Regions from separate parts of the Homo sapiens genome. Here region 2 is linked to region 1. The links come from fine-mapping of genetic effects on gene expression. A gene starts in region 1. The other region holds a variant in brackets. All regions are shown on one strand. Distances are from middle to middle.

What was found.
Region 2: its variant is fine-mapped to the expression of PITPNC1 in fibroblasts (GTEx, PIP 0.93).

Annotation. Positions count from the first base shown.
Region 1 is chr17:67,375,016-67,380,384 of GRCh38, reverse strand. PITPNC1 (phosphatidylinositol transfer protein cytoplasmic 1) reads right to left here and starts at 3,104. Exons shown (of 9, transcript NM_012417.4): 1 at 2,183-3,104. The coding sequence starts at 2,230. RefSeq lists silencers at 1,250-1,609, 1,720-2,019, 2,030-2,449, 2,800-3,049, 3,100-3,219 and an enhancer at 2,605-3,298.
Region 2 is chr17:67,419,236-67,424,604 of GRCh38, reverse strand. All of the region lies in intron 1 of PITPNC1 (phosphatidylinositol transfer protein cytoplasmic 1), which reads right to left. Among named protein-coding and RNA genes, the nearest start is that of PITPNC1, 45 kb to the right of the region's middle. RefSeq lists an enhancer at 1,992-3,191. The variant C/T (reference allele first, on the strand shown) is at 2,354.

The sequences.
Region 1 (5,369 bases):
AGGAAGGGCTGGCTGGGCGCAGTGGCTCATGCCTGTAATCCCAGCACTTTGGGAGGCTGAGGCAGGCGGATTGCCTGAGGTCAGGCATTCAAGACCAGCCTGGCCAACATGGTGAAACCCCGTCTCTACTAAAAATACAAAAATTAGCCAGACGTGGTGGCAGGCACCTGTAATCTCAGCTACTCAGGAGGCTGAGGCAGGAGAATTGCTTGAATCCAGGTGGCGGAGGTTGCAGTGAGCCGAGATCTCGCCATTGCGCCCCACCCTGGGCAACATAACAAGGCTCCATCTCAAAAAAAAAAAAAAGAAAAGAAAAGACAAAAAAAAGGAAGGAAGGAAGGAAGGGCCTCCACCTATATCATTCAAATGTAATTACCCCACGGTATACCTGTGGGTATTTCGGTACAAAAACAAAAGTGGGAAAAGCATCTGCCTGAGTGTTTCAGAAAGCCTGAAAAGGGAACCAACTAGGATAAAGAGATTTTGTAGTTAGTAGAGAAGATTCTAGAACTGGTTCTTTTCTTGATTATCACCTGCAATTTTCTGTGTATTTCATGCAGTCCCAACATTGCTCCTAGAATCCAAACTCATATCAAAAAACAAGGTCATTAGGATATGGAGTAGAGGGATCCATGCCTCCCAGCTGAATTACTCTAGCTCAACTGCCCACAAGGTGGGACAATCTCCACCTTTTCTGGAAAGACTCCTATTAACCAGTCCCATTCATTTGCCCTTCTCTTTCTCCACAAAGCTATGTCCTGCTTCTCCACTTACAAGGTCATATGCAACTCGAATCTCTGTCTACCCACCTGGCATCCACCCTTCCAGACCCTGCTTAAATGCTACCTCCTCAAATGCCAACGAACTCCAAAACTCGGTTGTTCATTCTGGTGGAAGCTGATCTCTCCCTCCTTGGCAGCCTGTGTCCCCGTGATGCGTTTTGTAAACTTGCAGCTACTTTGATCTTGTCTTGGATTGTACTTGGGTCTTACCTTAACCCTTGGTCCAGATGGCAAATACGGACAGCCCCTGTGAGCTCAGCCATGTTCTCAGTTATGCATCTTTTTCTCTCCCAAAGCACATCGCCCCTCTCACCAAGTAGTGGCTCAAAAACATATCTGATAGTTTCGAGGCACCAGATTTAAATATAAAGACGGTCTGGGTGGCTGATTTCATGTGTGTTGCCACACCAAACCACACTAGTGAGTTTCACGTTGCCTTGCTTGGCTTTGGGCTCCCTCGCTGTCCCTGGACAGAGACGCTCAGCAGTCGTGGAATCACCACAAAGGTGGGGAGGAAGAAGGGGAAGAAAGGGAAGCCGGGGCCGGAATAATCCTATCTGAGTCACCACTTCCTGAATACTGGAGCTCGCGGCTTCGCAGGATCGGGAGAAGGACAGCAGAGCCGCGCTTGGAGGACGAGCCCCCGCCCCGCGCCCGGCGCCCCCAGCCGGCAGCCGCGGCCCCGGCACCACGTGCTGGAGCGCCCTCCTGTGGCCGCGTCGCAGCCCCCGCCGCTCCCGGCTCGCGCGCCGCTCCCCGCGGCGGAAGAAACAAGAGACGCAGAAAGTTTCCGAGCCAGGCGGTTTGCGAAAGGACACAGCCGGGTCCCGAGCCTCGAAGGGCGGACGTGCCGGGAGCTGCGCCCAAGCCCGCGGCGACGGCGAGAAGTCGGGCCCCGCAGGGACCTCCCCTAAGGGCTCAGAGGTTCCTCCCGCGGGGCTCGGGGCGTGCAGATCCCGAGGGCGCAGGGCTCCTCCTCGCACCCCTACCTGACCGCAGAGGGCGGGGAGGGGAGGCTGGGCCCACGGCCAGGACGGGATGCCCCCCAAACCCCAGCTACAGCGCGCGCCGGGGGCTCTTGGGTTTGGTTTATTCATTTTCTTATTTGGAGGGAGGGGGCGCACCCACTCCCTTTGGCTCATAGTGATCCCCAACAGTCTGGATTCTGGGCGCCCCCGAAAAGCCCACCCGGAGTCCGCCGCCCCACCCAGCGCCGCCCTCCCCCGCTGGGGTGACAAGTGGAAGCCGCAAATCCCCTCCCTCCTCTCCTCCAGGCTTCGGGTTTGCGGGGTAACGTCCACCTGGGTTTCCTGCCGCTCGCCCGGGGCTCGCCGGCCAGGAGGCGGCGGTAGCGGCGGGGGTCCCGGAGCGGGCGAGGCCGGGCCGGGCGCGGCGCTTACCTCGTCTACGGTGAGCGGCATGCAGATCCGGTACTCTTTCAGCAGCATGGTCCTGCCGGCCGCGGACCCCCGGGGCGGGAAGCGGGGGGCGCCCCCAAGACCAGCAAGGCTGCTGCCCAGGCGCAGGGCAGGGCGCCCGGAGCCCGGCGCTCGGAGCCGGAGGGCGAAGCAGCCCCCGCGGCGCGCTCAGCTCCTGGCTTCCTCCTCTCCGCCCCAGAGCATGTCAGGGTTTGGGTCTGGGTGTTCGCAGCTCCCCCGCCTCCTCCCTCGCCGAGGCCGGTCCTCCCGGAACGCGGTGTTGCAAAGTCAGGGAGGCAGGGAGGGAGACCCGCTGGGGACGACTCTGCTCGGCTGCCCAGGGTGGTAGGAGCGGCCGCCAGATCAGGACATGCCCGGCAGCGAGCGAGGGAGGAAAAAAGAGAGATTTCCAAAAATTAAAACGAATGCACAAAAGTCACCCGCTCGATCCGCCTCCGAAAGCAGACGGGAACCTGGCGACCCCCCTCCTCCGGCGGGTCTGCCCGATGCTAATGTCACCAGGAACACATTGCAGCCGGAGCCGGAGATGCTGACTTTCCAGACAAAGGCTCGATCGGCTTCTCTCCGCGGGCGGTAAACAAGATTTCCTGCTCTTTTTAGGGCCGGTCCCCGCGCCGCTCCGGGGCTCGGCTCGGGGAGAAAAGGGAAGCCGCCGCCGCCGCCGCCGCTCGGCTCTGCCCGGCTGGGGCCCCGGGCGCCTCCAACCTCGGCTCGCGGCTGCCAGGGGCGGGCGGGAGGAAGCTGGCGCCTTCCGCGCGCGTCCCCTCCCCCGAGTCCCTCGGCTCCCCGGGCGCCGTGCGTGCCCGCGAGTTTGCAGCCACCTCGCCGGGGCCGGAGCGTCCGCGCCGATGCAGTGTGCCTGGGGCCGGGAGGTGGGTGCGGGAGGAGCGAGCGCGAGCGAGGCTGACATCAGCAGCGGCCGCGGCGGGGAGGGTAGCCCCATCCGGCCAATGGGGAAATGGCAAAGAATGTGGAGGATTTAAACAAAACAGCATGTCTCTGCCAGACGGCGGGGCTGCTCCGGAGCGGAGCCCGGCCGGCGCTGGGGAGGCTCGGGCAGAGGGGCTTTCCTCGGCTCCTTTGCCCTTTGAATCCGCTCTCCATTGTGCCCTGAGTGCTGCCGTGCTCCATCCAGCCCCTCTGGGAAGTTTCTGGTCCCCTGACCCTAGGGACAAGTCACCAATGCCCACCACCTATGTGTGGTCCAGTAAGCAAGTCTGGGGCTGGAGAGGCAATGGGTGGGATTTGGGAACAAACCCTTGCCTGGTTTCAGAGGAGAGATCCTGGAAAACTGGGAAGTGCAGCCGTGTGAATGGAAATGAAGTACAAACGGGGAGGGAACAACCAGAGAGAACATGAACCCCACGTAGCCTGTTACCTCGCCTGGCCCGGCTCTGCAATCTTTCTGCAGATTGTGCAGGCTCCGCGCAGCAGAAAGAAAGAGTAGGTTTTCGTATCCGCACTCCTAAGTTCAAAAAGTCACAGTGAAATGTCAATGAAAATGCCTGGAGTGTTGCTATTTGATCCATATTAAACAGATCTCTCATTTTAACCACAAGAAGCACATTCTTCAGTTACTCAGGAAGCAGCATGGAACTGCTGAAGTCTGTTTTTCATTTGTCTGGTATTTTTCAGCTTGTTTTTATGAAAAGTTGCCGGATGAAAAATGCATCAGTTGCCTGTATGAGAATAACCTGTAAGCGTTATCTTTTCTCCGAAAAATCTTCACGCTCTGAAGTCCTGAAGCTAGAGCTTAGATGGCGATGCAGATGCCTCAATACAGTATTTTGAATTGTGTTTAATTAATAAGTAATTAACCAATATGACGATGATGGGCTTGTGGCAAAAGTCATCCAGAGGGCTGGAGAGAATTTATAACTGTTAACTGATACAAACCCTCCTAGGAAAATGATACCCTATATCCAGCTTATATTTTAGTGGAAACTATTTTCCAGATAAATGCTTTCCAGAGTTGGCTCAGAAATATTCACAGCAACTAATTAAAGCTAAACCAAATTCCTCGAGGTGGAAAATCTAAATCTGACACTGCAGTGTTGAATAATAACACATTGGAAGGCTGTGATATGGAAAGAAACTCAAGCTGTTTTTCCTTTTTTTTTTTTTTTTTTTGCTTCTTACTTGAAAACAAATGGAAGACCTAATAATCTTCCCAGAGGCAGGAAGGCAAGGGATTGGCTAGCCACACATGCGCATGCACTTGGGACATCGGGATGTGTAGGCTCAGTTCCTGGCTTCCTGGACATTTCCTGACACTGATTCTGGAAGGAAGTATTCTACTGACGGGTGACACTGTTGAGGAGCTACTTCTCTGAATTTCCCGAACTGTAAATTGTCACATATATGCTTCCTCCATCATCCGTCTTGTTGCTGTTATTGGTTTGTGATGGAGTTTCGCTCTTGTTGCCCAGGCTGGAGTGCAATGGCATGATCTCGGCTCACTGCAACCTCCACCTCCCGGGTTCAAGCAAGTCTTCTGCCTCAGCCTCTGGAGTAGCTGGGATTACAGGCACCGGCCACCACGCCTGGCTAATTTTGTATTTTTAGTAGAGATGGAGTTTCACCATGTTGGTCAGGCTGGTCTCAAACTCCTGAGCTCAGGTGATGGCCTCGGCCTCCCAAAGTGCTGGGATTACAGGTGTGAGCCACCGCGCCCAGCCCACCCCTCCTGTTGTAAGGTGACTTCTCCATTGGATTCTCATTTTCTTTTCATTCATTGCATCCGCAAACCTGGTCATATTAATCTTGTGCAAGTACAGCTCTCATCCTGCCACCTTCAAACCTTTTAGTGATTCCTGGCTGGGCTCGGTGGCTCACCCCTGTAATCCCAGCACTTTGGGAGGGGAGGTGGGCCGATCGCATGAGCCCAGGAGTTCAAGACCAGCCTGGGAAACATGCTGAAACCCTGTCTCTAAAATTTAAAAATATATAAAAACCTTTTAGGGCTTCTCTATGGCCTACTGAGCAAGTCAAAATGCTTTGGTAGGAGGTTCAAGGCTCTGGATCTACCTTTCCCACATTAGTCCATTACCCTTCCCAGCCCAACTCCAGCCAAATGAGACGAGTCAGTTGGCTGCAAAAGCCCCTCCTCCCCGGCCACCTTTCTAGCTCAACCCTTCTGCTGTTCAAC
Region 2 (5,369 bases), 44 kb before region 1:
GATCACTGCAACCTTCGCCTCCCAGGTTCAGGCGATTCCTCTGCCTCAGCCTCCTGAGTAGCTGGGATTACAGGCGCCCACCACCACGCCCAGCTAATTCTTGAATTTTTAGAAGAGACAAGGTTTCACCATGTTGGCCAGGCTGGTCTCGAACTCCTGGCCTCAGGTTATCTTCCTGCCTCGGCATCCCAAAGTGCTGGGATTACAGGAGTGAGCCACTGCGCCCAGCCAGCCCAGTTTTCTTGAAGGTCAAGTGGTAATCTTGCATAGTTATAGTTTGGATTAAATACGATGGTGACATAGTGCCTACATCACAGTCCCTCTTATGCCATTCTTCCTCTTCTTGCTGGAAGAGAAGTCCCAACTCTTAAATTCTCTCCCTCCACCTTGAAAGTCCTTTCTCTATTGGCTTCTACCATACCATTCGCTAGTTTTCCTGCTTTTTCTCTGTCCATCCCATCTCACTTTTATTCTTGAGCTCCTCATCCTCAACTCTATTTTTTTTTTTTTTTTTTTTTTGAGACAGTCTCCCACTGTTGCCTAGGCTGGAGTCACAATTCTAGAGAGGTCATTTCTTAAGTGGCATATGAAGAGTTGTAAAATGTAACAGGAACACCAATAGGTTTTGGATTGGTGTTAAACCAATTTCAGAGAAGTGTGACTTTCAGGACTGCAAGAAATCTACTTGAAACCTCTTCTGTGAAACTGATCCCGAAGTTTCAGCCCTGAATCCAAATGAGGACAGAGATGCCCAAGAGGGAGCATTGCAACTCTCCACTGTGGGACCTGGGCCACATATTCCCTCCTGGCTTCAGGACAGAAATCTGTAACTGCTCTTGAAGGAGCCACAGAAACGCTCTTCTTTTCTTTAGCAACTTTCTTCCATTTGTCCTTTGCTCCAGAACTATAGGATGGAAACCCACAAAGACATACCTGGGCGCACATCCATCCTTATTCAAATGCAGGTGGACCTTCAGGGAGGCTGAGGCAGGAGGATCGCTTAAGCCCAGAAGTGCATGGTTGCAGTGAGGCATGATTTCAGGTAGACTTTCATTTAAATGAGCATGGATTTGCGCCTAGTCAGGTCGGTTGAAAATACTAGTAATCAGATTTGAAAATACTAATATTCAGGTTTCGCCACCTCTCTGTACCAAGCCCACATCCTTGCCTTTAGAAAGTCAGGCCTGCTAGGTGGGGTCACCGGGGTGCTCCAGGCAAATATCATCCCCCTCTCCCAAGGTAAGGGCCCTGCCAGGCAATGGAGAGTATTTCTCCAACACACCATGTTTCCAATATCTGTCAGAGAAAAGACCTGATTCAACTTGTATCCAGTGATTTGAAAGCTAAACCCAAATCTCAATGTCATTCTGACAATATTTCTATTAAATAAAATCCTCTGTTTCCTTGGGGGCTTTTAAAATCAATCTGCCACAAAAAGCTTCCGAACAAGTTAATAACGCAGACGTGCTGACTCACACTCCCCAGCAAGCACTCCTCCATGAAGAATCAATGGACTTTGTTCAACATATCAAAACAGTTAGCAGTTGAGCCGTAATGCAATTAAAACACAGCTCTTCCTTACCCAACTCTTCCTCATGTTAAAAAAAAAAAAATGCTAGCATACTGAACTCTTGGGAGTTACAGAATCAAAATCTCAGATGAGTCTGTTAGAGCTGAACTAACATTTACTAAGTGTATATCACACCAAAGACACTGAGGCACGTACATACACTACCCTGCAAACTAGACATTGTTTGAGTAAGCTAGACCGGCGTGGTAGCTCACGACTTTTATTCCCAGCACTTTGGGAGGCTGAGGTGGGCAGATCACGTGAGGTCAGGAGTTCGAGACCAGCCTGGCCAACATGGTGAAACCCATCCCTACTAAAAATACAAAAATTAGCCGAGTGTAGTAGTCTAATCCCAGCTACGCAGGAGGCTGAGGCAGGAGAATCTCTTGAACCTGGGAGGTAGAGGTTGCAGTGAGCCGAGATCACACCACCGTGCTCCAGCCTGGGTGACAGAGCAAGACTCTGTCTCAAAAAAAAGAAAAAAAGAAAGACAGTGAGCAAGCTAGGGCTGGGCAGGTGGGTGTGGTGGCTCACACCTGTATGTACTCAGGAGGCCAAGGCAAGAGGATGGCTTGAGCCCAGGAGCTCAAGACCAGCCTAGGCAACATAGCAAGACCTCATCTCTATTTTAAAAAATAAATAATGAGGAAATTGAAGCTTAGAGAGTTGAAATGACTTGTCCACGGCCTAATAAGACAAAATTGGGATTCAAACTCAGTCTGTCTCCAAATCTCTGTCTCTCCATATGCCACTCACCTCCAACTCTATGCAATGGTAAGTAGA[C/T]AATGTCAAAGGAATGTATTAATAGCCTTCCTTCCTCCTAGGATGGGCCTGGGAACATGCTGTTTTGTTTTTCCCTCTGCCCCTCCTTTTAGTCATTGGAAGCGTATGTTGGCACATCCTTCTTTCAGATGATGTGGTTTAAGCCTTCTTGGGTACAGTCACAATTGAGTCATACTTCCTGCAAGTCACACCAGCTCACCTTGCCTGAGTTCTAAGGGTTCACAGATTCTTGGCTCATCTCGCACTGTAAATTTCAACTTCAATTCGAGGTCATTTCCTGTTGGCCTCATGTGTCACCTACATGCATAATTTGCCTCTCAATGTTATTCCTGGAAGGTCTCTCATTGCCTTGGCTGTGTTAGAGGGTGAGTCCCATCAAGGAAGGATTTGGTGGCTTATTCGCCGCTGTATTCCCAGAACTTGATAAATATTTACTAAATAAACAGATTCTGCATCTTTGCCACATTTCTAGGAGGTAAGGAAACTAAGACACAGGAAAATTAAGGTTGCTTTTCTATGACCACACAAGAATGAGGCTTCCTGGAATTGGATGTGAGAACAGCCATAACTGGGGTGAGGGTACCCATCTGACACAGCAACCCAGCCTTCCCAACACCACACCGTGAAGACTTTAGAATAACAAAAATGGGTTTCAAAAGTTACCATTCTAGCCTGGTACAGTGGCTCACACCTGCAATCCCAGCACTTTGGGAGGCCGAGGCAGGTGGATCACCTGAGGTCAGGAGTTCAAGACCAGCCTGGGCAACATGGTAAAACCCCATCTCTAGTAAAAATACACAAATTAGCCAGGCGTGGTGATGAGTGCCTGTAATCCCAGCTACTCAGGAGGCTGAGGCAGGAGAATCGCTTGAACCCAGGAGGCAGAGGTTGCAGTGAGCTGAGATCACACCATTGCACTCCAGCCTGGGTGACAAGAGCGAAACACCATCTCAAAAATAAATAAATAAATAAAAGTTACCGTTCTCTGTTTTCAAGTCTTTGGCACCAAGACAAAAGACATCCGTCTTCTATATGAGCTGTATGTGTGAATGACTCCAACAGGGAGTGAAAAACTAACAGTTCCTGCTCCACCTGCCAAGTTCTCACTAGCACCATCAAGAAGAAAGCTTTCTCTCAGCCTACCTGGAAGGAAGGAAGCCAGGGTGGAATGCGCAGAGATCTCCTGAAATGTCATCTTCCCTTCTGCACCCAGAAGGACCCTAAAGATCCCCCAAAAGAGACTGGAGCCCAGTATATTCTAGCTAACATGATGGATAATGTATCATTCATGGCTGGTGAAATTCTAAGTAGCTTCATAGTGAATTCTGCCCCCACATTAGACATTCCTGACTTTGCTTCCATCACATATAGTTAGTATGAGTAAAGGGCTATTGATTGATCAGAAGAAACACTGGAAAGTAAGTCTGAGTGCCAAAACACTAAGTGCTTCTACAACGAGAAAATATACACAAGTCAGGAAATGCAATGGAAATAAAAACACAAGTAGAAAACAGAAGTGAGGCCGGGCGCAGTGGCTCACGCCTGTAATCCCAGCACTTTGGGAGGCTGAGGCGGGCAGTTTACTTGAGGCCAGGAGTTCAAGACCAGCCTGGCCAACATAGCAAAACCCCGTCTCTACTAAAAATATAAAAATCAGCCAGGCGTGGTGGTGGATGACTGTAATCCCAGCTGCTTAGGAGGGTGAGTGAGAGGCTCGCTTGACCCAAGGAGGTGGAGGTTGCAGTGAGCCGAGATAGCGCCACCGAGCTCCAGCCTGGCAACAGAGAAAGACTCAAGAAAGAAAAAAAGAAAGAAAAGAAAAGAGAAGAGAAGAGGAAGGAAGGAAGGAAGGGAGGGAGGGAGGGAGGGGAGGGAGGAAGGAAGGAAGGAGAGAGAGAAAGAGAGAGAGAAAATAGAAGTGGCTAATTTCTGTACACCCCCAAGAATTTAGAAATTTGGTCACACATTGAGATTCTTTATTCCAGTGCTTCTTGCTGTACCCAGGGGCACTTAGTAATTCCTGAGAACCCTGCACTGGAGGTTTTCAAATCATAATTAATACAAAACTTGTCATGAAAAGACTCACTAATCACTGATCTATAAAATATATTCTCTTCCACAGAGTGCCTTTTTTAGCTTCACTCTGAAAAGCATTGCTTGTTTCTACCACCCCTCAGGGATCAAAGACGGACTCATGTCAGGTCCAAAATGCATGAAGCAAAATGAGACCATGATTTGTCTCTGATAACTTTGTGCTTTACGGATGGATAGACAGATGTGGATGGTTTTGAAACAAAGGGGTTCTGGTTTTCTCTCTCTCTCTCTTTTTTTTTTTGAGACAGGGTCTTGCTCTGGGTCTCCAGCCTCACTCAGGCTGGAGTGCAGCGGCACAGTCTCGGCTCACTGCAACTTCCACCTCCCGGGTTTAAGCAATTCTTCTGCCTCAGCCTCCCGAGTAGCTAGGATTACAGGTGCTTGCCACCATACCCGACTAATTTTTGTATTTTTAGTAGAGACGGGGTTTCGCCATGTTGGCCAAGCTGGTCTCGAACTCCTGACCTCAAGTTATCCGCCTGCGTCGGCCTCCCAAAGTGCTGGGATCATACGCTTGAGCCACTGCGCCTGGCCTCTTTAATTTATTTTTTCTAATGAGTTGGTCTATTCTGTAATTCAGGAAAAAGAGTGTCTTCCCTTTCTCGGAATTTTCCTGATACCCTACTTAAGGTCAAAACTAGAAAGTGTCCCAAGTAGGTAGGGAAGACGGGCCAGCTCTTACATTAAAGGAGGTACTGAACCCACCACACTTGAAGCAATGACGGAGAAGGATCCTCGAGCCTGGCACTGCAACTTGAAATGATGTTTCCTGGATAGAAATCTGTCTTAGTAGGAAATGCATCATGTCTGCGTCCTACTCCAGAAATAGGAAACTTCTAGAATCTGTGCCAGTGTGGTGGAACTGATGGAACCATTGGGAGAGCTTCCATTTCTCCACCACATGTACCTACTTTCCCCCTCA